2 separate regions of the Homo sapiens genome follow, and region 2 is linked to region 1. The links come from fine-mapping of genetic effects on gene expression. Tissue or cell type: whole blood. Region 1 holds a variant in brackets; the other region holds the start of a gene. All regions are shown on one strand. Distances are from middle to middle.

Region 1 (10,688 bases):
ACAGAGTCTCGCTCTGTCGCCCAGGCTGGAGTGCAGTGGCAGGATCTCAGCTCACTGCAAGCTCCGCCTCCCGGGTTCACGCCATTCTCCTGCCTCAGCCTCCCAAGTAGCTAGGAATACAGGCGCCCGCCACCACGCCCGGCTAATTTTTTGTATTTTTAGCAGAGACGGGGTTTCACCGTGTTAGCCAGGATGGTCTCGATCTCCTGACCTCGTGATCCACCTGCCTCGGCCTCCCAAAGTGCTGGGATTACAGGCCTGAGCCACCTCGCCCGGCCAGGAGTTACGTATTTTTAAAAGTTCACCAGAACGTTGATTTTCAGAGACTGCATTTGTGCTATTCACAGCTGCATTGCAGGTCTCAATACATAGCACTCAGTATAAGCTGGGCCCTTACTGTTTCGCGATATTTTGAAAAAGGATTAAGGACTCAGTGGACATCCACCAAAGCCGAGCTTGATAAAGAATCTGGGCCAGGGCCGGGTGTGGTGGCTCACGCCTGTAATCCCACCACTTTGGGAGGCCGAGGTGGTTGGATCACGTGGTCAGGAGTTCGAGACTATCCTGGCTAACAGTGAAACCCCCGTCTCTATTAAAAATGCAAAAAAAAATTAGCCGGGCGTGGTGACGGGCACCTGTAGTCCCAGCTACTCAGGAGGCTGAGGCAGGAGAATTGCTTGAACCCGGGAGGTGGAGGTTGCAGTGAGCCGAGATCATGCTACTGCACTCCAGCCTGGGCAACAGAACAATACTCCGTCTCAAAAAAAAAAAAAAAAAAAAAAAAAAAAAAAAAAAAAGGAAAGAATCTCACACCTGTAAGTAACCCTGCACTTTGGGAGGCTGAGGTGGGCGGATCACCTGAGGTCAAGAGTTGGAGACCAGCCTGGCCAACATTGTGAAGCCCTGTTTCTACTAAAAATACAATTAGCCGGGCGTTGTGGCTTGCGCCTGTAATCCAAGCTACTCAGGAGGCTGAGATGGGATAATCGATTGAACCAGGGAGGCGGAGGTTGCAGTGAGCCGAGATCGCGCCACTGCACTCCAGCCTGGGCAACAGCAAGAAGAAAAAAAATCTGAAGTAGGGGAGCTTTCAAGGAAGACAAAGATTGGCTAACAATGTTCGATGACTTAGGAAAGAAGATTAACCGTATGATCGGGCAATTTAGGACCTGATTTGTTAACTTTTACCAATGATGTCTAAACAATGCAGTGAGAACAGAGAGACTGGAGTTGAGAAAAGAATGAAAAGAAAGAAAGTGAAGGTGCCTGGTAAAAATGTTTTTGGAAGCAGCTTGATGGGGGCGGACGGGGAAGGTCGCCACCTAGTGTGATTTCAAGGTTACTGAGAATAAAGCACGAGTGGGCGTGGTGGCTCAAGCCTGTAATCCCAGCGTTTGGGAGGCCAATGTGGGTGGATCACTTGAGCTCAGGAGTTCGAGACCGGCCTCGGCGAAGTTGCGTAAACCTAGTGTCTACAAAAAATACAAAAATTAGCTGGGTGTGGTGGCGCGTGCCTGTAATCCGAGCTACTCGCGAGACTGAGGCAGGAGAATTGCTTGAACCTGGGAGACGGAGCTTGCAGTGTGCCGAGATCCTGCCACTGTACTCCAGCCTGGGTGACAGAGCAAGACTCGGTCTCAAAAAATAATAAATCAACAACCACAAAGCGGGCCCGAATTACTGGGAAGACAAAAAAGCCAAAGAACTCAGCATAGGCCCAATCTAATTTTGGTTTGCTCTACTCTCTCAGTCGTTGATATTCTCCAAGACTTCCAGCTCCCAAAATATTTCTTCAACTACCCCAAAGCATCTGGCACTGCTTGAAAGGACCTGCTGGAGTCCCAGGATGAAAGGAGGTTATGTTAACCATCCTTGCGCGGAAATGAAGAAAACCACGAGTTGTTCCTCCTGCTTTTTCCTGTTTTTTTTTTCTGTTGTTGTTGTTGTTGTTGCAGAGGCGCGGTCCACCCTGGAATGAAGTGAGAAACCGAAATCATTTGGGGCTGTTTCCTTCCTGCAAGTCAGCCATTACCTTGCCCAATTCAAACTTTATTTTCACCTGCTTTAATTCCTGCTAGTTATTTTCCTCTTCTTAGAGTTTGACCTCAGGTAAATTAGCTAATCTCTCTGTGCTTCAGTAGTCATCTGTATAATAATATATATCTCCGTAAGGCACTGTAAGATTTAGGTAAGATAATGTCTGAAAACTCTGTTCTTTGGGCCGGCCATATAATGAGTCCTCATAAATTGTAGCAATTAGTTTAAGTAGAACGAAGAATATATGTATCACTCTGAATTAAGATGGATTAATATAAAACACTTGTCGAGGATGAGCTGCATTTTCCAAACCTGGAGGACAAAAAACCCTCCAAGTGTTATTACCTTATTCCACACATTTGGGAAAGTACAATGTCCTAGAGTTGTGAAAAAAGCAGAAAAGCCCACAGTTTCCTTGTCTGTAATATGGAGGTTTTGGTATCTCATAGGGTAGTTTTTAGAATAAGATGAATTAGCAAATGGTTTAATGTTTATAAAACATTAGTTTTATATCTTAGAATGTCCTTATTCAGTGTTAATCTCTGGTCACTCCTGCCTCCAATCTCAGTATTCTGTAAGCAATGATATATCAGGTGATGTGGATCTTCTGTGAGCCTGACAAGGCTTCCGTCCTCACAGAGCGTGCAGTCTATAAATGTGAAAGTGATGGCCACAGGCAGGAGGTTCAAGGTCAGACTGCCTGGGTCAGAGGCTCACTCTGTGCTCTAAACCTTTCTGTCCCCCTGTCTTCAAGTCTAAGTAGGATTAAAATAGGATGCACATTATAAGGGTGTTGTAGGGATTAAATAAGCAAATTGTTTTCACTGGGTGCTCATTGAGTGAATGGGATTTGAAAAGTTAGGTAAAGCCATCAAGAGGTGTGTCTAGGGCAAGGCTGTGCCTAGGGTGGGGCTGTGTCTGGGGCGGGGCTGTGTCTAGGGTGTGTGAGGGAGGGCGTCTCAGGGTTATGTTTGATGATTGCTGCTTCAGAGTTAATCACTTTATCATTCAGAACCTGGACTAGAGATTCATCTGAACTTCCAACGGTGAGTTTCTGTGGTGGACACCAAAGCGTGTTTCTTTTGCAGGAGGCTCCTTACCTAATGCATTAGTGTTTTGTATTAATAGGTGTTTGGGCTTTCACTTTTTTTTTTTTCTTTTGAGACAGGGTCTTACTCAGTTGCCCCGGCTGGAGTTGGGGAATCTTGGCTCACTGCAACCTCTGCCTCCTGGACTCAAAGCTATATTCTCCAGCCTCAGCCTCCCAAGTAGCTGGGACCACAGGCATGCACCACCACACCTGGCTAATTTTGGTTTTTTTGTAGAGACAGGGTTTTGCTATGTTGCCCAGGCTGGTCTCAAACTCCTGAACTCAAAGCAATCTGCTCACCTCAGCCTCACAAAGTGCTGGGATTACAGGCATGAGCCACCCTGCTAGGCCTGACTTTCACCTTTCAAAAGTTCAAGCTTGTAGGCTGGGAACAGCTGATTTCATCAGAGTAATTGTGTGTGGTTGCCGTATGGTAGAATTGGGTATAGGATTTTACTAGAGGCTCAGGTATTTAAATCTTAACCCATCATAGCATTAAGAGAGACTTTATATTTTAGAGATACATATGGATGTATTTTCGGGTGAATGACATGTCTGAGATTCACTTCAAAATAATGAGGGTGGGGTGTCAAGGAGATAAAATTGGCCAGGTATTGCTATATATTAAATTTCAGTGATAAGATCATCAGGCTAATTATACGCTTCCGTCTACTTTCCTGTATGGTTAAATGTAAACAGGGTGAATACTGAAAACAAAAACGTCCTCAAAGCAAAAGAGCTATACTGGAAGAATTGTAGAAATGGCCCTAGGCATTTTTTTCCCTTTTGTTCACAGATTTGATATTTCATGAAATTCAGAAATAATTTGGAGCTTTTCAAACCTGGGATATGGAAGAAACTGACACTCCTGTTCTCTGGGAAGGTGGGCTTGCAAAGTATGGGGATTCTGGATTTCTTTTTCTAGATGAGCCCTGGTTGAGAGAAGTCTCCGGTTAGTTCCAGCGGTGCCTTGTATCTTAATACGTTGTGTTTAATGAGTAATAACCTAAGTCAAAGGTGCCCCGATAATATACAGTGGGCCCAGAAGTCCACTGGGCTCATCACTATATTTCAGAGGCAAGAATCTGCATCAAAGAGCCCTGGAAGCAATCATGGCTCAACTGTGATGCCTTTAGAACATGAAGTCCTCCAAGAAGATGCCATAGGAATGGCCTCCATCCCAGGGCCTGGAGAGCAGCCAGAGACAAGAAGAGTAGCCCAGGAGGGCACTGGCAGTCAGTGCTACACTGTGGCCTGTCAGTCTCAGAGCCAGGATTTAATCACTGGCAGGCAGGCTCCAGAGGTCCTGCTCCTCACTGTGGGTCTATGGCCATACAAAGCAAGTTGGTTTGGTTGCTGTTTTTACTATAGGAACTGAGTGTTTATCGTAAAAAACTTATGTTTTTTACAAGTGTTACGTGTGCACATTTGCTTTTTAGAAATGTTGGGAAGTTTTTATATTGGGTCATGGCATTGGGAACAATATGCTCCTATGAACATAAGTGTACAAATTGCTGTTCAAGTCCATGCTTTCAATGATTGTGGGTATTTACCCAAAAGTGGAATTGCTGAATCATATAATAATATTTAATTTTTTGAGAAACCACCATAATGTTTTTTCTTTTTCTTTTTTTTTTTTTTTAGACAGAGTCTCACTCTGTCACCCAAGCTGGAGTGCAGTGGTGTGATCTTGGCTCACTGCAACCTCTGCCTCCCAGGTTCAAGGGATTCTCCTGCCTTGGCCTCCTGAGTAGCTGGGATTACTGGTGCACACCACCATGCCCGGCTAATTTTGTATTTTTAGTAGAGATGGGGTTTTGCCATGTTGGCCAGGCTGGTCTCGAACTCCTGACCTTAGGTGATCCATCCACCTCGGCCTCCCAAAGTGCTGGGATTACAAGCATGAGCCACCACGCCTGGCCCACCATACTGTTTTTCATGTGGCCACACCATTTTACATTTCTTCACATCCTTGACAACTCTTACTGGGTTTTTTTTTTGTTTTTGACAGTAGCCATCCTATCCTAATGGGGTGAGATGGGGGGTGAGATGATGTGTCACTGTGGATTTGATTTTTTTTTTTCATTTCCCTAATGATTATTGATGGTGAACATTTTTAATGTGCTTAATGGCCATTCATATACCTTTTTGGGAGGGATATCTGTTCAAGTCCTTTGCCCATTTTAAAATCAGGTTTTTTTTTCTTTGTTGTTGGGTTGTAGTTTCTTTTTTTTTTTTTTTTAAGATGGAGTCTCACTCTGTTGACCAGGCTGGAGTGCAGTGGTGAGATCTCGTCTCACTGCAACCTCCCCCTCCTGGGTTGACGCCATTCTCCTGCCTCAACCTCCTGAGTAGCTGGGACTACAGGTGCCTGCCACCACGTCCTGCTAATTTTTTGTATTTTTTAGTAGAGACGGGGTTTCACCGTGTTAGCCAGGATGGTCTCGATCTCCTGACCTCGTGATCCGCCCCCTTGGCCTCCCAAAGTGCTGGGATTACAGGCATCAGCCACTGCACCCGGCCCCAACTTGATTATTTTGCATGTGGATACCCAGTTTCCCACAGCCCTGTTTGTTGAAAAGAATGTCCTTTCCCCAGTGAATGGTCTTGACACCCTTGTGAATCATTTGACCATGTTTGTGAGGATTTATTTCTGAGCTCTCTAGTCTATCCCACCAGTCTATATGCCTGCCTTTGTGCTAGTACCAAACTATAATTGCAATGGTAACCTCAAGAAAATATCTACAGAATATATTTACACTTGTACATCCACTAGTACCACATTGTTTCATCATAGGTTTGTAGTAAGTTTTGGAATCAGGAGGTGTGAGACCTTCAACTCTGTTCTCCTTTTTAAAGATTGTTTTGTCTATTGTGGATACCTTGAGATTCCACATACATTTTAGGATGAAATTTCCTATTCTGCAAAACATGTCTGGGATTTTAAAAATAGGAATTGCATTAAAGATATAGATCACTTTGGGTAGTAGAGCCATCTTAACAATATTAGTTCTTCTAATCCAGGAACACAGGATAGCTTTGTATCTTAATTAAAAAAAAATTTTTTTTGAGACAGGGTCTCACTCTGTCAGCCAGGCTGGAGTGCAGTGGTGTGATCATGGCTCAATGTAGCCTTGACCTCCTGGGCTTGCTCAAATGATCCTCCCACCTCAGCCTCCCAAGCAGCTAGGTTAACAGGCATGTGCCACCAAGCCCAGCTAATTTTTAAAAATTTTTATTTTACCTCTTTTTTTTTGCCAGGGCCTTGCTCAGATGCCCAGGCTAGAGTGCAGTGGCACAATCATGACTCACTGCAGCCTTGAACTTCTATTTTTTTAGAGATGGGGTCTTGCTATGTTGCCTAAGCTGATCCTTGAACTCCTGGCCTCAAGCAGTCCTCCCATCTTAGCCTCCTGAGTCAATGGGATTACAGGCCTGAGTCACTACACTTGGCTAATCTCATTAGTAACTTTATTATTATGTACAGGTATGAGATTGGGCTCCACTTTTTAAAAATTTTATGAAATAGCCAATGATTGACCTTTTTTTT[C/T]CCCCCACTCTGGATATTACTAGTATTCTCCAATGCTTTTCTCTTTCTGTTTGTACATTTTTCAGGATCTCCCATTAACCAGTCATAATGAAGTAAGAACAAGAAGATGGGGAAGAGGAAGTGTAAAACCGTGGCTTAAATTTGCCAAGGATAAGCTGAGTGTACTTCAGCAGTCATTTGCACAGAATCCTTATCCTAATTTTACAACCAGGGAAAAACTGGCTGGACAGTCTCTTGTCCTGTGTTTGTAATTGATGTAAGTAAAATATTAAAAGCTTTGCATGGGTATGTCTTTTTATAGATAATGTGGAAAATGTAAAGAAGCATGAAAAAGTTTAATAGCATTTTATCACATAGCACAAAGTGATTTTTTTAGGCTGGGCGCAGTGGCTCATGCCTGTAATCCCAGCACTTAGGGAGGCTGAGGCGGGCAGATCACTTGAGGCCAGGAGTTCGAGACCAGCCTGGCCAACATGGCAACACCCCATCTCTACCAAAAATACAAAAATTAGCCAGGCAGGTTGGCACGTGCCTGTAGTCCCAGCTACTTGGGAGGCTGAGGCAGGAGCATTGCCTGAACCTCAGAGGCAGAGGTTGCACAGGGCCAAGATGGCACCACTACACTCCAGCCTGGGCAACAGTGAGATTCTCAAAAAAAAAAAAAAAAAAATTTGATTTTTTTTTTTTGGTTGTTGTTCATCTCAATGTGGGTGTGAATATATTATATATGCATTTTATGGAAAATAGACTATTGTGAGGCAAATTTGGGAGCAGTGTTAAGAAGCTACTGTAGGCTGGCTGCGGTGGCTCATGCCTATAATCCCAGCACCTTGGGAGGCTGCGGTGAGCGGATCACCTGAGGTCAGGAGTTCAAGACCAGCCTGGCCAACATGGTGAAACCCTGTCTCTACCAAAAATATAAAAATTAGCCGGGCATGGTGGCACGCGCCTGTAATCACAGTTACTCAGGAGGCTGAGGTAGGAGAATTTCTTAAACTCAGGAGGTGGAGGTTGCAGTGAGGCAACATCACGCCACTGCACTCCAGCCTGGACGACAGAGCGATACTCTGTTTCAAAAAAAAGAAAAAGCTATTATTGTAATTTTCCAGGATAGAGACAGTGATGGTTTTGACAAGGGTGCTGGCTGTGGAATTAGAGAACTGGGAAGACCTTTAATTTTTAAAGGTGGAGCGGCTTATAGTTTGCTGAGTTATTGGGGATGCCAGAGGTAAGGATAGCTCCAAAGTTTTGGCTTGACATGGAAGATTGGAGATGCCTTTAACTAACAGGGGAGCTTGGGAGAAGAGCACTTTTGTGTCAGACATTTGGAGTTTTACTTTGCACACGTTAAGTTTGGTGTGCCAATTAAACTTCTAAGAGTTTACTTACTCCAAGGAGTAAGTAAAAAGTTAGGCATGCAAGTCTGAAGTGCAGGAGGAAGAACTTGGCTTGATAGTGTCACGGGACTTGGCACAGAACCCCACAGCATCAGTAGTTGCTTCATAACCATTTATTGCACGAACTAATATTTTGTTTGGTGATTTTCTGATATGATCATTGTAAATTGTTAAAGCACAACATCTTATTGTATTTGAATTTATATTATTTACACATACAATATATTCTCTAATCCCCTGACAGATTATATATACACATTTAAGGAGACTTTCATATTTCTCATCTGTGATTATCCTTTGACTATTGAATATATTGGTTGCTTGACAGAAGGACAAAATTGTGTTAGTGAAAACAAAGAATATAAGCAACTTTGGAGAATAAAGGAAAAGTATAGGCAAATATTGTGTAATGAAATTTTTATAAAAGTTTCGTGAAGTAGGCCAGGCATGGTGGCTCATGCCTGTAATCCCAGCACTTTGGGAGGCCGAGGTGAGTGGATCACCTGAGGTTAGGAGTTCAAGACCAGCCTGGCCAACATGGCAAAAACCCATCTCTACAAAAATACAAAAATTAGCTGGGAGTGGTGGCAGACACCTGTAATCCCAGCTATTCAGGAGGCTGAGGCAGGAGAATCGCTTGAACCTTGGAGACAGAGGTTGCAGTGAGCTGAGATGATGCCACCGCACTCCAGCCTGGGTGACAGAGGGAGACTCCATCACAAAAAAAAAAAAAAAAAAAGCTTCATGAAGTGAGAACATTTCAAGGGAAATACAAACAAATGCTTTCCTGCAAATAAGTAGAAAATCCAAATAAAGTAAATAACCAGGATAGAAATGGAAGGACTGATCGATTTCTTTTTTTTTTTTTTTAAGTGACAGGGTCTCACTCCGTTGCCCAGGCTGGATTTCAGTGGCGCAATTGTGGTTGACTGCAGCATCGACTCCCTGGGCTTAAGTGATCCCACCTCAGCCTCCTGAGTGGCTGGGACCACAGGACATGATGCCTGGTTAATTTTTTTTTTTTTTTAATGTAGAGATGGGGTTTTGCCATATGGCCTAGCCTGGGCTCAAACTCCTGGGTTCAAGCAATCCTCCTGCCTCAGCCTCCCAAAGTGCTGGGATTACAGCATGAGCCATTGCGCCTGGGCTTGGTCAAACATTTAAATGAACGTTCTTATACTGTTCATTTATTTACATTTCTAACTTTGTGACAGTTGGGTTGCTCATGGTCAAAAGTGCTTTTTAATTATGTTTTATCCTTTCTACTTGTCAGAGGGATAGATTCCTAAAAGGAAGTTCATAGATAACGGCTAATCAAATTACACTGAATTGAACTGGCCTGCATGTGCTTAAAGAAAGTGCCCATGATGTGATCAGGAAGCAAGCATGTTTGAGGGGAGGGCCACAGGAGGCTCTGTCATGAGAGAGTGAGGTCTTGTCTTTTGGTTGGGTCCTCATGAGATCTACCTCCTAATGGCTCTATAACATCTGACTTATAGAGGTGCAAGTTGACTTATAAGGTGCAAGTTGACTCTTGCACCTTATCTTTTTGTAAAATATGTATAATTATGTTGTGATGGTGTTGTGAGAAGAAAATGAGTATATCTGGAGGTGCCAGGTTCATTGTGCATGGTCACAATTTTATTTATTTGTTTATTATTTATTTATTTTGAGATGGCGTCTCACTCTGTTGCCCAGGCTGGAGTGTAGTGGCACAATCTCAGCTCACTGCAGCTTCTGCCCCCTGCGTTCAAGGGATTCTCCTCCCTCAGCCTCCTGAGTAGCTGAGATTACAGGCATGCGCCATGATGCCCAGCTAATTTTTGTATTTTTAGTAGAGATGAGGTTTCCCCATGCTGGCTAGGCTGGTCTCGAACTCCTGATGTCAGGTGATCCACCCACCTCAGCCTCCCAAAGTGCTAGGATCACAGGGGTGAGCCACCGCGCCTGGCCCACAACTTTGTTTTAAGCAGTCATTATAGGTGTGGATCAGACATCTTTCTAGCTTTAAGCGCTATTAACCTAAAGCAATTCTGAACTTGCAGACAGAGGGGTTCCTGGAGGGATCAAATATTAAAAGGCCCCCAGACATCCTTACCTGCATGGTAGGGCTCTAGGTGCGGTACCACAACAGAGCTTATTAGGATGGAGAGTCTAAAACAGTGTTGATCATTTCTCCCTCCCCTAAACCCCTAGGGATTATGGTTGGCAGGTGTAATTATCCTCTCTTTGTGGAGGAGGGAAAAAAATGAAGACTAGAGGTGTCAAATGGAATGCTTAGAGTCACGTGTAAGATGCCTTGCCAGGTTATTACAAACTCTTGCTTGTTCCTTTTTTTTTTTTTTTTTTTAGATAAAGTCTTGCTCTGTAACCCATGCCAGAGTGCAGTGGCACAATCTCATCTCACTGCAACCTCCCCCTCCTGGGTTCAAGCAATTCTCCTCCCTCAGCCACCCAAGTAGCTAGGATTGCAGGCACACACCACTATGCCCAGCTAATTTTTGTATTTTTTTTTAGTAAAGACAGGGTTTCACCAGTTGGCCAGGCTGGTCTTGAACTCCCAACCTTGTGATCCACCTGCCTCAGCCTCCCAAAGAGCTGGGATTACAGGCAT
Region 2 (10,688 bases), 23 kb before region 1:
AAAAATACAAAAATTAGCCAGGCATGGTGGTGGGCTTCTGTAATCCTAGCTACTGGGGAAGCTGAGGCAGAATCGTTTTAACCCAGGACGTAGAGATTGCAGGGAGCCAAGATTGCGCCACTGCACTCCAGCCTGGGTGACAAAGCAAGATTCCCTCTCAAAAAAAAAAAAAAAAAAAGTCTAGCTTATTTGTTTAATAAACAAGAAAACAGAGTAAGATCATTCTATTTAACATACTTAGCAGTCTCTGACATAGCAGTACCCAATCAATATTATTTTTATTATTGAAACATAGTAATAGCAATACAGTATCTTATTTTCCACTTTTAGAATAGAAAAATAATAGAGGTGATAGTATATCTTGACCAGAAATTAATTCAATTAATTATTATCTTGACCAGAAATTAATTGGAAAGAAGCAATTTGGCATTTCCATAACCATGTTTTTCATTGTACCATACTTTCTGTATATGCTTATATAAAGTACAAACATAATTTTTTCTTGTATTCTCACATAGCATTAACCTATACTAGCATCTCCTGAGTGGGGTCTGGTTTGGGGGCTTTTAACTAGCATTGCATCCTAGAATTATCTGTGGAGCTTTTAAAAAGAGCACATTCCTATCTCTGAGGCAAGACTTACCCAATCAGAATCTCTGGGTCTGGAAACCAGACGTGTGTATTTTGAAAAAGCTCCTCAGGTGGCTCAATTGTAAAACGAGGATTGTGAGTCATCGGCCTAGGTCAGTCACTTAGCTCTTTTGTAAACTAGAAGCCAGGCTCCTATTCCTAGTCTTTTGATCTAGTTGGGGCTACCCAGAAAATTTGTTAAAAAATAACAAAAGTCATCTGAATTAGATAACTAAGTAATTGGTTAACCAACATAAACAAAATGAATGCATTCATCAAACATTTACTGGGTACTGCCTCTGCTCCAGGCTCAGTATCAGGCATGGGGATTCCGCTCTACCCTGAGAATATTCTCAGCCTACAAGTGTGTGAACTATTTAAATGTGGCTGCTCTCAATTTATATTAGCTACTAAGAGAAAGGCAACAAACACCTACTTCAAAGACTTACTTGCACAATACTATGGCATACAAGGACTCTCCCACATGAATCAGCCAGGCAAGCCAATACCTGAAACCAAAAAAAAGGTTAATCTTTTTTAAGGTGATAGTTATCTGCTGATGAAATCTAACACAGCAATCTCAAAAAGAAAAGTGCCTTAAGGTGAACCGACACTACTCTTAGATACCAAAAGGCAGCTGCAGGCCTTCCAGGTTTCCCATGAGACCAGAGCTCCAGTGTCCACAGTCCACTTGTGCAGCTCTCCTTACCCATTGCACAGGAGGGTGTGATGGTGGTCCACCAAGTACTGAGTGAAGGGGCCCAGGGGCCCAAGGTTCTGATAAGGGATACTCTGAGGCCAGAAGACAACCCACTGAAAGAGAAGCAGAGACACAGAATACCTATTAGGTCACTTAAAACCTGTTTTTTGTTTTTGTTTTTGAGAAAGGCTGTGAAACAGTAAAAAAATTACCACAGACCGAAGAAACTCTGAACAGTCATTTGGGTCTCCATTCTTGGCTTCTATTTTCTTTCTTTCTTTTTTTTTTGACAGGGTCTCACTCCGCTGCTGGGGCTGGAGTGCAGTGGCATGATCATGACTCACTGCAGCCTCCACCATCTGGGCTCAATCCATCCTCCCACCTCAGCCTCCCAAGTAGATGGGACTACACGTGTGTGCCACCATGCCCAGCTACTTTTAAAAATTGTATATAGAGATGGGGTCTCACTATGTTGCCCAGGATGGTTTCCAACTCCAGGGCTCAAGCAATTCTCCAATCTTGGCCTCCCAAAGTGCTGGGATTACAGGCATGACCTACTGTGCCAGGATGACTTCTATTTTCTAAAAGCAACTCTACTGGGAGACTTATGCTGAGGAAAGTATGTGGTTATCAGACTCAGTGCCCACGGTGGATGACTCTTAAAGTCTTTTTTTCTTCCTTTTCTTCTTTTGTTTTCTTTGTAGAGAAGGGATCTCGCTTTGTCACCCAGGCTTGAGTGCAGTGGCCTGATCACGGCTCACTGCACCCTTGACTTCCCGGGCTCAAGCGATCCTCCCAACTCAGCTTCCCCAAGTAGCTGGAATACAGGCATGGCTACCACGACTGACTAATTTATTTATTTATTTATTTATTTTAGATGGAGTTTCACTCTGTCGCTTAGGCTGGAGTGCAGTGGCACGATCTCGGCTCTCTGTAACCTCCGCCTCGCGGATTCAAACGACTCTCCTGTCTCAGCCTCCAGAGTAGCTGGGACTACAGGTGCATGCCACCACGCCCAGCTAATTTTTGTATTTTTAATACAGACAGAGTTTCACCATGTTGGCCAGGCTGATCTCCAACTCCTGACATCAGGTGATCCGCCCTTCTCGGCTTCTCAAAGTGCTGGGATTACAGGTGTGAGCCACTGCCCATGGCTAATTTTGTGTGTGTGTGTGTGTGTAGAGATGAGGTTTTGCCATGTTGCCCAGGATGGTCTCGAACTCCTGGGCTCAAGCGATTTGCCCGCCTCGGCCTCCCAAAGTGCTGGGATTACAGGGGTGAACCACCATGCCTGGCTGACTCCTATTAATACATTCCACCAAAACCATTATTTTATAAAAGATATTAGCAAATTTTGAGTTTATGTGCTTTGGCTAGTTTCTTTACTGCAGAAACTGGCTCCAGCCAAACCTCTGTTTAATTTAGAATTCCTTTCTCGGCTTTCCCTTTTTGTACGGCTAAAACTGAGAATGATCCACTGCATAGAGATGGAAAATAAGTGAGATAAGGTTGTGACATTTTAATAGCAACTGCTTAATCACATAAATTTTTCGTAATCTTAACTTTCAGCCTCTGTATTGTAACTTCTGTCAGCTAAGACTTTTCTGAGAATAACTCAACAGTTTCAAAATGTATTGTCCCATTCAAATCTTTGTCAAGAGCAGTACTACCTCTCTCACGATGTTGTTTCACATCTGAAAGTTAAATAATGCACAAATATCACTGCATCCTCCCAAACCAAAGGGAAAGGGGAGCATCTGCCAGCTCCACAAGATCCCAATTTGAAGTCCCCAAAGCTTTCCTCCAACTATATTCTAACTAGTCACAGACACTAAATCGTAGAACAGAAATGCACCTTTGAAAATTTTCAGTTCAACACCTCCATTGTACATATGGGGAAATCAGGACATAGGTTGTCAGATTTGACACCAACAAACAACACTGTGGACAAGACAAATCTCCAATCTCCAGGATCTATTGGTATACCCAAATAGCTTCGCCTTCCTTCAAAATTTTACCACCTTATCACTTGACGTTAGGAGTTCGAGGCCAGCCTCACCAATACCCATGTCTACTAAAAACACAAAAAAATAGCTGGGCATAGTGTAATCCCAGCTACAGGTAAAGACATGAGAATCGCTTGAACCTGGGAAGCAGAGGTTGCAGTGAGCCGAGATCGCCCCACTGCACTCCAGCCTGGGTGACAGAGCGAGACTCCGTCTCAAAAAAACACAAAACTACCACCTTAGCCCCCAACCTACTTTTCCACGCATCTTTCTCGTTATCCTTTAAACAGATTATTTCTCAGCCAAACAAACGTCGCTCTTTTTCTAGGTACAGCTTTCTTCTTGCTTCCACACCTATGTCAGAACAGTTATAGCCTCTTTATCCTCCCTTACCACTTAAATCCTACCCATCCTTTAGATTTATCCCCGTTTTCCAAACAATTCCTATTGGCTCAAACATTCTGCTTCGGAAGCCCTATTCTGACTTGGCAGGCCTATGGCAGTCTGTTAACTTGACTTTCCGCTTCGTGAGAGGCTTAGGCTCGGATAACCCGTTAGTAACCATGCAGAGGTGAGGACCCAAAGACAGGAACACTAGAAAGCAGAAACTATCCTAAGAGCCCACCGAATTTCCGCTTACATGAGTAACCGAGACAACCGTCAGATGCGCGTGCGCACAGGCCCCGTTCCCAGAGCTCCCCTCGCCCTACGAGGGCCCGGCGGGCCAAAACAGAGGCCCGCCCCGCCCCACCCCACGCCTCACCGCGAAGTAGCCCAGCCCCAGGACTGTGACCAGAGAGGGCAAGGGTCTTGCTGGACGGAAATAGGCGGTAGCCGCATTGCTGGCCTCCGACTTCACCATCCTCTTGAAAAACCCAGACACAGAGTTGGCTGGGAGCTCCCCAGCCGTCCCCGCCCCCATATAAGAAAAGCCTGGCTAGCCGGTTTCTCAGGGCCCTGGGCGCCCGCCCAAGACCCTGGCGGACCAGTATGCTTGCTCTCATTGCGGAGTCTGGTCCCCTCCCCTCCGCTCCTAGCGCGCGGGAGTCGGGATTGTGCTTGCACGACTTCCCCCGGCCCGCGGCCTGTGAGCCCAGGTCCTGGGGTGAACCGAGCGCTCGCTCGTTCGTCAGACCGTAGCGCTCCAGCGGCTGTCCTTACTGTGTAGTAGCCAAAGCTGAGGGTGATGACTGTGAACCAGAACAGACTGCCTCGCTGAAAGTAGGTCGCGCCGGCTGCCGTAGCCATGGCTGCAACACCTCCCCGGGAGCGCGCTTCAGGACACCGTCGAGCGCGAGCGCGGAGGCAGGGCCGGGGCCGGCCCGCGCTCCCTCGCCATCCCCGCAGGGAGAAGATGGTGCTGGTTGGGAAGTCCCTGAGAGCGAGTCTCCCTGTCTGGCCCCAGTACAGGGGCCTTGGAATCACACCTGGGCTCAGGTCTGGAGGGCTGGTCATCATCTTGTAGGGGAGACACTCCTGTCACTTTTCTGGGTTTAAGATAAAGATGTTCGGGCTGGCGCGGTGGCGTGTCCCTGTAATCTCAGCACGTTGGGAGGCTGAGGTAGAAAGATCCCTTGAGCCCAGGAGTTTGAGACCAGCCCGGGTAACATAGCTAGACTCTGTCTCGAATGAATGAATGAATGAATGAGGTGTTGGAATAAATTCCAGCAATTTGGGAGGCCGAGTCGGGCAGATCACTTGAGGTCAGGAGTTTGAGACCAGCGTGGTCAACATGGTGAAACCCCGTCTGTACTAAAAATACAAAAAATTTGCTGGGCGCGGTGGTGCCTGCCTGTAGTCCCAGCAACTCCAGAGGCTGAGACAAGACTCTCTTGAACCTGAGAGGTGCAGGTTGCAGTGGGCCCAGATCACGCCACTGCACTCCAGCCTGGGCAACACAGCAAGACCCTGTCTCAAAAAAAAAAAAAAAAGATGGTGTTTTACTAAGAGTCTAATTTTTGAAGTTCTCTGTGCTGTGCACCTTGAGAAATAATGCTGTCCTCATTAGTTAAGATGTTTGGAACTATACAGCACCATGGTTATGAGCAGGGACTGTGAAACAGGCTGCCTGGATTTAAGTCCTGGCTCTGTCTCGGCTATTTGTGTAAGCTTAGATTAATTACTTAGCCCGGCTGTGTCTTAGTTTCTGTATCTGTAACATGAGGATATGCCAGTTTTGGGAACCTCAGGGTTTTTAGGGTGGGTTAAATGAGTTGATATCTGTAAAGAAAGCACAGCAGTGTCTGGCCCATAGTGCTTTGTAAGTGTGGGTGATTATCAATACTGCTGAGCCTTTAGCATGTGTGCCAGGCCCTGTGCGAACTGTTGTATCATCAATGAGCTGTGGGAGGTATATGCAGCTGAAGTGTCTGATTAAACACTATTTAATCATAGAAATAGAAAATCATAGAAATAGAAAAACTATTTCACCTGGGCCTTAAAAATGGGTTACTGGCCAAGCGCAGTGGCTCAAGCCTATAATCCTGGCACTTTTGGAGGCCGAGGTGGGTGGATCGCTCAGGAGTTCGAGACCACCCTGGAGAACATGGTGAAACCCTGTCTCTACTAAAATACAAAAAATTAGCTGGGGGTGGTGGCGCGTGTCTATAGTCCCAACTACTTGGGAGGCTGAGGCACGAGAATTGCTTGAGCACCGGAGGCGGAGGTTGCAGTGAGCCGAGATCCAATCACTGCACTTCAGCTTGGGCTATAGAGTGAGACTCCGTCAAAAAAAAAAAAAAAAAGTTACTATACTGTAGCTGGTATTTATTGAACACCTACTATGTTCAAGGCATTGTTCTAAGTACTATACAATAATTAACTAATTTAATTCTTAAAACAATCCTAGGCAGTAAACTATTGTCCTTATTTCAAAGAAGAAGAAACAGCACAGGGTCCTGTCATGCCCAAGTGGGTGAGGAATACTGGAAAACAATTGGCAGCTGAGTGTTCCAGTTCCAGAGAGGGCACTCTGGAACCAACCAAGGTTCTCTTTCCTCATTTTTTACGTGAGTATCTTGGGATATAAAGTCTTAAAGAATGAATTTCAGAATATGTGAGGAAATCCATTTCCCAGGTAGACCACAGTGCTCTTGAATATCAAGATTAACAGTAACAATTGTAACAATTGGTGTTTTCTTAGTCCTTATCATCCTTGATCACACCACCCTCTTTATTCTTCTCCTCCTTCTGAATAACTCCTTGTTTTCTCAGCTTTCCTTTTCTTTCTTCTCTCCTAGAATAAGTTTTGCTTATTATCTTCTTTGTGTTTTCAGTACCTATCAGATTCAATTTTCACCTTCAGCTGACTAAAATAATCTCTTCAGCCCTCACCTCTTCCCAGTTGGTCACCTTTACCAAAGATTACTCACACCTCAAAGACAAGAAGTCCATTATCATTATCCACAGAGTCCATCCTCACCAAGGCTACCCTGTCTGTGGTTTTTTTTTTTTTTTTTTTTTTTTTTGAGATGGAGTTTTGCTCTTGTTGCCCAGGCTGGAGTGCAGTGTTGCGATCTCGGCTCACTGCAACCTCTGCCTCCCCACTTCAAGTGATTCCCCTGTCTCAGCCTCCTGAGTAGCTTGGATTACAGGTGTGCACCACCACGCTTGGCTAATTGTGGAGACGGGGTTTCACCATGTTGGCCAGGCTGGTCTCGAACTCCTGACCTCAGGTGATCTGCCTGCCTCGGCCTCCCAAAGTGTTGGGATTACAAGTATGAGCCACCTCGCCCGGCCTACTCTATGTGAACAGCACTTTCTTTCTACCTTGTACCCAGATTCCTTGCTTTGACTTCCCCCATATCATATAAAGATTGCAGACTAATCAGCTGTCAAGAGTTCTACTGATTGGGTAATACAATATCTAATCCTTCTAGATTAAATCATGGCTTCATCTCCACTGTCTCATGAGTCAGTCACTCCTTCCTACTTCCTGCCACTTCAGCCCACATGCAGTCCCTTTATTGAATCTGTCTGACAAATAACAGGATCATCTTTTTCAAGTACAGTTCTGATCAAGCCTTTACCATACCAAAACTTTTTTTTTTTTTTGAGACAGAGTCTCACTCTATTGCTCAGATTGTAGTGCAATGGCGCAATCTCAGCTCACTGCAACCTTGGCCTTCTGGGTTCAAGTGATTCTCCTGCCACACTCTCTCTAGTAGCTGGGACTACAGTCACATGCCACCACACCCAGCTAATTTTTTGTATTTTTAGTAGAGATGGGGTTTCGCCATGTTGACCAGGCTGGTCTCAAACTCCTGACCTCAGGTGATCCACCTGCCTTGGCTTCCCCAAGTGCTGAGATTACAGGTGTGAGCCACCATACCCAGCCTACCTTACCAAAAGTTTCAAGAACTTCCCCAATTTTAGGCTGCCGTTTTTCAGTATTTCTATTTAGGTATTAAATCTGCAACGAGGGAGATATTGGAGAAATTATTCATGCTACAAGAAATGTTGGAGAGGCAAAATGGCTTCAGTCAACAGACTACAGGGAGCTAGGTTTTAGTTTCATGTCTTCTACAACCCTGCTTGGAGCCCAGCCTGTTACTTAGTGTCCTATGTCTTCCAACTCCACACTATTTTTTTTTTTTTTAATAGAGACGGTGCTTCACTATGTTGCCCAGGCAGATCTCAAACTCCCAGCCTTAAGTAATCCTTCCACCTCAGCCTCCCAAAGTGCTGGGATTATAGTTAGAGGCTGTACCTGGCCACCAACAGCTCAACACTAAACATCTTACTGTTAGCCCCTCACGCACAGATAAGGAATCCAGAAGACAGTACCAGAAGATCTTTGTTCAGATGTGAGTAGTTTATGTAAATTCATGAAGAACTTACAGTCAACTGGATGTTCAGAAGGCATTCCTTTCTTCATTACAGTCACCCTTCACACACGGCAGGGGTGACTGAATTCTCTAAGGTCCAGGCACCCTACACTGCTGTCCCATCTGAATTGGCAGAGAAATATCTCATCCCTGGACATTTTTATCCCCCTGTCTAGATGGATTAGTGACCTAAATATGAAAAATAATGAAGAAAGTCTGGGAGAATAGTTTTACAACTTTTGAGGGAGGGGAAGGAAACCTTTTAGCAAGTTATTAAAATTAAAAGCCATAGAAGGAAAGATTGAAAATTTAACTGCATCCAGATGAAAAGCTTCATTCATATGAATGACACTGTAAATAAAGTTGAAATACCTGGAAGAAGGAATTCTCCAATATATGTAATTGACAAATGATTAAAGGATATGAATTGGGCATCCTCAAAAGAGAAAACTTGAGACCAAGCAAAATGAAAGGATGGTTCAATCTTAATGGCCCTATGGGATACGCAAAATAAAGCAAAAATAACATTGTTTTTCCTCATAAGATTGGCCTACTAGATATCAAGACACACTGTAAAGAGCTATAATAATGTAAAACATTTGGCACTTGACATGCAGAAATCAACAAATGGATCAATGAAAAAATAATGCAGACTCCAGACATGGATCTGGTATATACATATCCAAGCGTTTATTTTATAATAAAGGTAACATTTCAAATTAAGGAAGGAATAATGGATTATTCAGTAAATTATTTTGGGGCAATTAGTTATCTATTCCAGAAAAAATATTTTAAATAATACTGTCCACTCCCAAACACAAATACACAAATGATGCAGTATCAAGAGATACAGAGGTATTAATAAGTAGTCCTCCTTGGGGAGTTATGATGAGGTGGCTATAGGATGGACAAGTGCTGAGATACAGCAAAAAACTCCCACACCTTCCCAGGATTATAGGATGGGGGAAGGGCGACCTAAACAAATTTACAGAAATTTGAATAGAATATTGTGTGTCCAGGGAATTAGGAGAAATTTTTTGTTGCTAGAAAAAAACAATGTGAAGAAATTGAGTGAAGGAAGTTGAGGCTGCAAAGACAGGTGGAGTCCTGATCATGAATGGCATTTGGTATCAAACCGAGGGGTTTTGATTTGATCCCTTAGCCAAGGTGAGTCAGTGAAATTCTGTTTGTTTTATTTAATTAATGTATTTATTATTTGTAGAGACGAGTCTCCCTATGTTGCCCAGCTGGTCTTGAACTCCTGGGCTCAAGTGATCCTCCTGCCTCAGCCTCCCAAACTGCTGGGACTACAGGTCAGGCTTGGGCCACCATGCTGAGCTAATTATTATTATTATTATTATTATTATTATTATTATTATTATTTTTAATAGAGATAGGGTCTCGCTATGTAGCCCAGGCTGGTTTTGAACTCCTGAGCGCAAGCTATCCTCCCACCTTGGCCTCCCAAAATGCTGGGATTACAGGCATGAGCAACCATACCTGCTCTGTTTGTTTTAACTAGTGGAGTGAACATATCTTGTGTACATTGGATGGAGGTAAAATTGGAAGGAAGGAAGGAGGAGAAGAAGAAAAATTATTGAAACAGTATAATGAGAATGGAGAAGGAAAATGCTACATTTTTTAGGTAGGGAAACCAAGGAATCATTCACTCAAATAGTCAAGAAATATTTCTGAAGACCGGCTGGGCGCGGTGGCTCACGCCTGTAATCCCAGGACTTTGGGAGGCTGAGGCGGGCGGATCATGAGGTCAAGAGATGGAGACCATCCTGGCCAATGTGGTGAAACCCCGCCTCTACTAAAAATACAAAAATTAGCTGGGTGTGGTGGCGCGTGCCTGTAGTCCCAGCTACTCAGGAGGCTGAGGCGGGAGAATCACTTGAACCCGGGAGGCACAGGTTGCAGTGAGCCAAGATTGCGTCACTGCACTCCAGCCTGGTGACAAAGCAAGACTCCATCTCAAAAATAATAAAATAAAATAAAATAGTAATAAAATTTAATTTCTGAAGACCAGTGTAGTGTCAGTTATGGTGCTAGGCTCTGGAAATATGAATATAAACCAAAAATAATATTCTAAGGCCCCCCCCTAACTATCTGAATGGACTTTCTTCTCAGCCAGGGCTCTTTTAAAATGTAACCTGAGAGACTGGTTCAGGCCATGACTGAAAGTGGGAGTCAGACATGCCTCATTATACCTTTCTGGCATTGACATCAACATAGACTGTAAGTCTGATAAGAAACATTTTACAACCTGTTCTCTCTGAAGCCTACTACCTGAAAGCTTCCTCTGCAAATAAGAACTTGAGTCTCCACAATCCTTAACCCAGATATTCCTTTCTCTTGATCCCAGGTATTTAGATAAACTCAACCAATTGTCAACCAGGGCTGCGTGTGGTGGTTTATGTCTGTAATCCCAGCAGTTTGAGTGGCCGAGGTGGGCAGATCACTTGAAACCAGGAGTTTGAGGCCAGCCTGGCCAACATGGTGAAACCCCATCTCTACTAAAAA

Evidence for each region. PIP is the estimated chance that this variant, and not a neighbour inherited with it, causes the effect.
Region 2: TMEM254 starts here. The variant in region 1 is fine-mapped to the expression of TMEM254 in whole blood (TOPMed, PIP above 0.99). The same link has a PIP of 0.9 or more in spleen and thyroid.

Annotation. Positions count from the first base shown.
Region 1 is chr10:80,049,641-80,060,328 of GRCh38, reverse strand. TMEM254-AS1 (TMEM254 antisense RNA 1) reads left to right here. Exons shown (of 4, transcript NR_027432.1): 3 at 6,743-6,933. Among named protein-coding and RNA genes, the nearest start is that of TMEM254, 24 kb to the left of the region's middle. The variant C/T (reference allele first, on the strand shown) is at 6,678.
Region 2 is chr10:80,072,596-80,083,283 of GRCh38, reverse strand. TMEM254 (transmembrane protein 254) reads right to left here and starts at 4,619. Exons shown (of 4, transcript NM_025125.4): 1 at 4,498-4,619; 2 at 1,340-1,443; 3 at 1,080-1,139. The coding sequence starts at 4,584. It overlaps TMEM254-AS1 (TMEM254 antisense RNA 1), which reads left to right and starts at 4,091. Exons shown (of 4, transcript NR_027432.1): 1 at 4,091-4,557.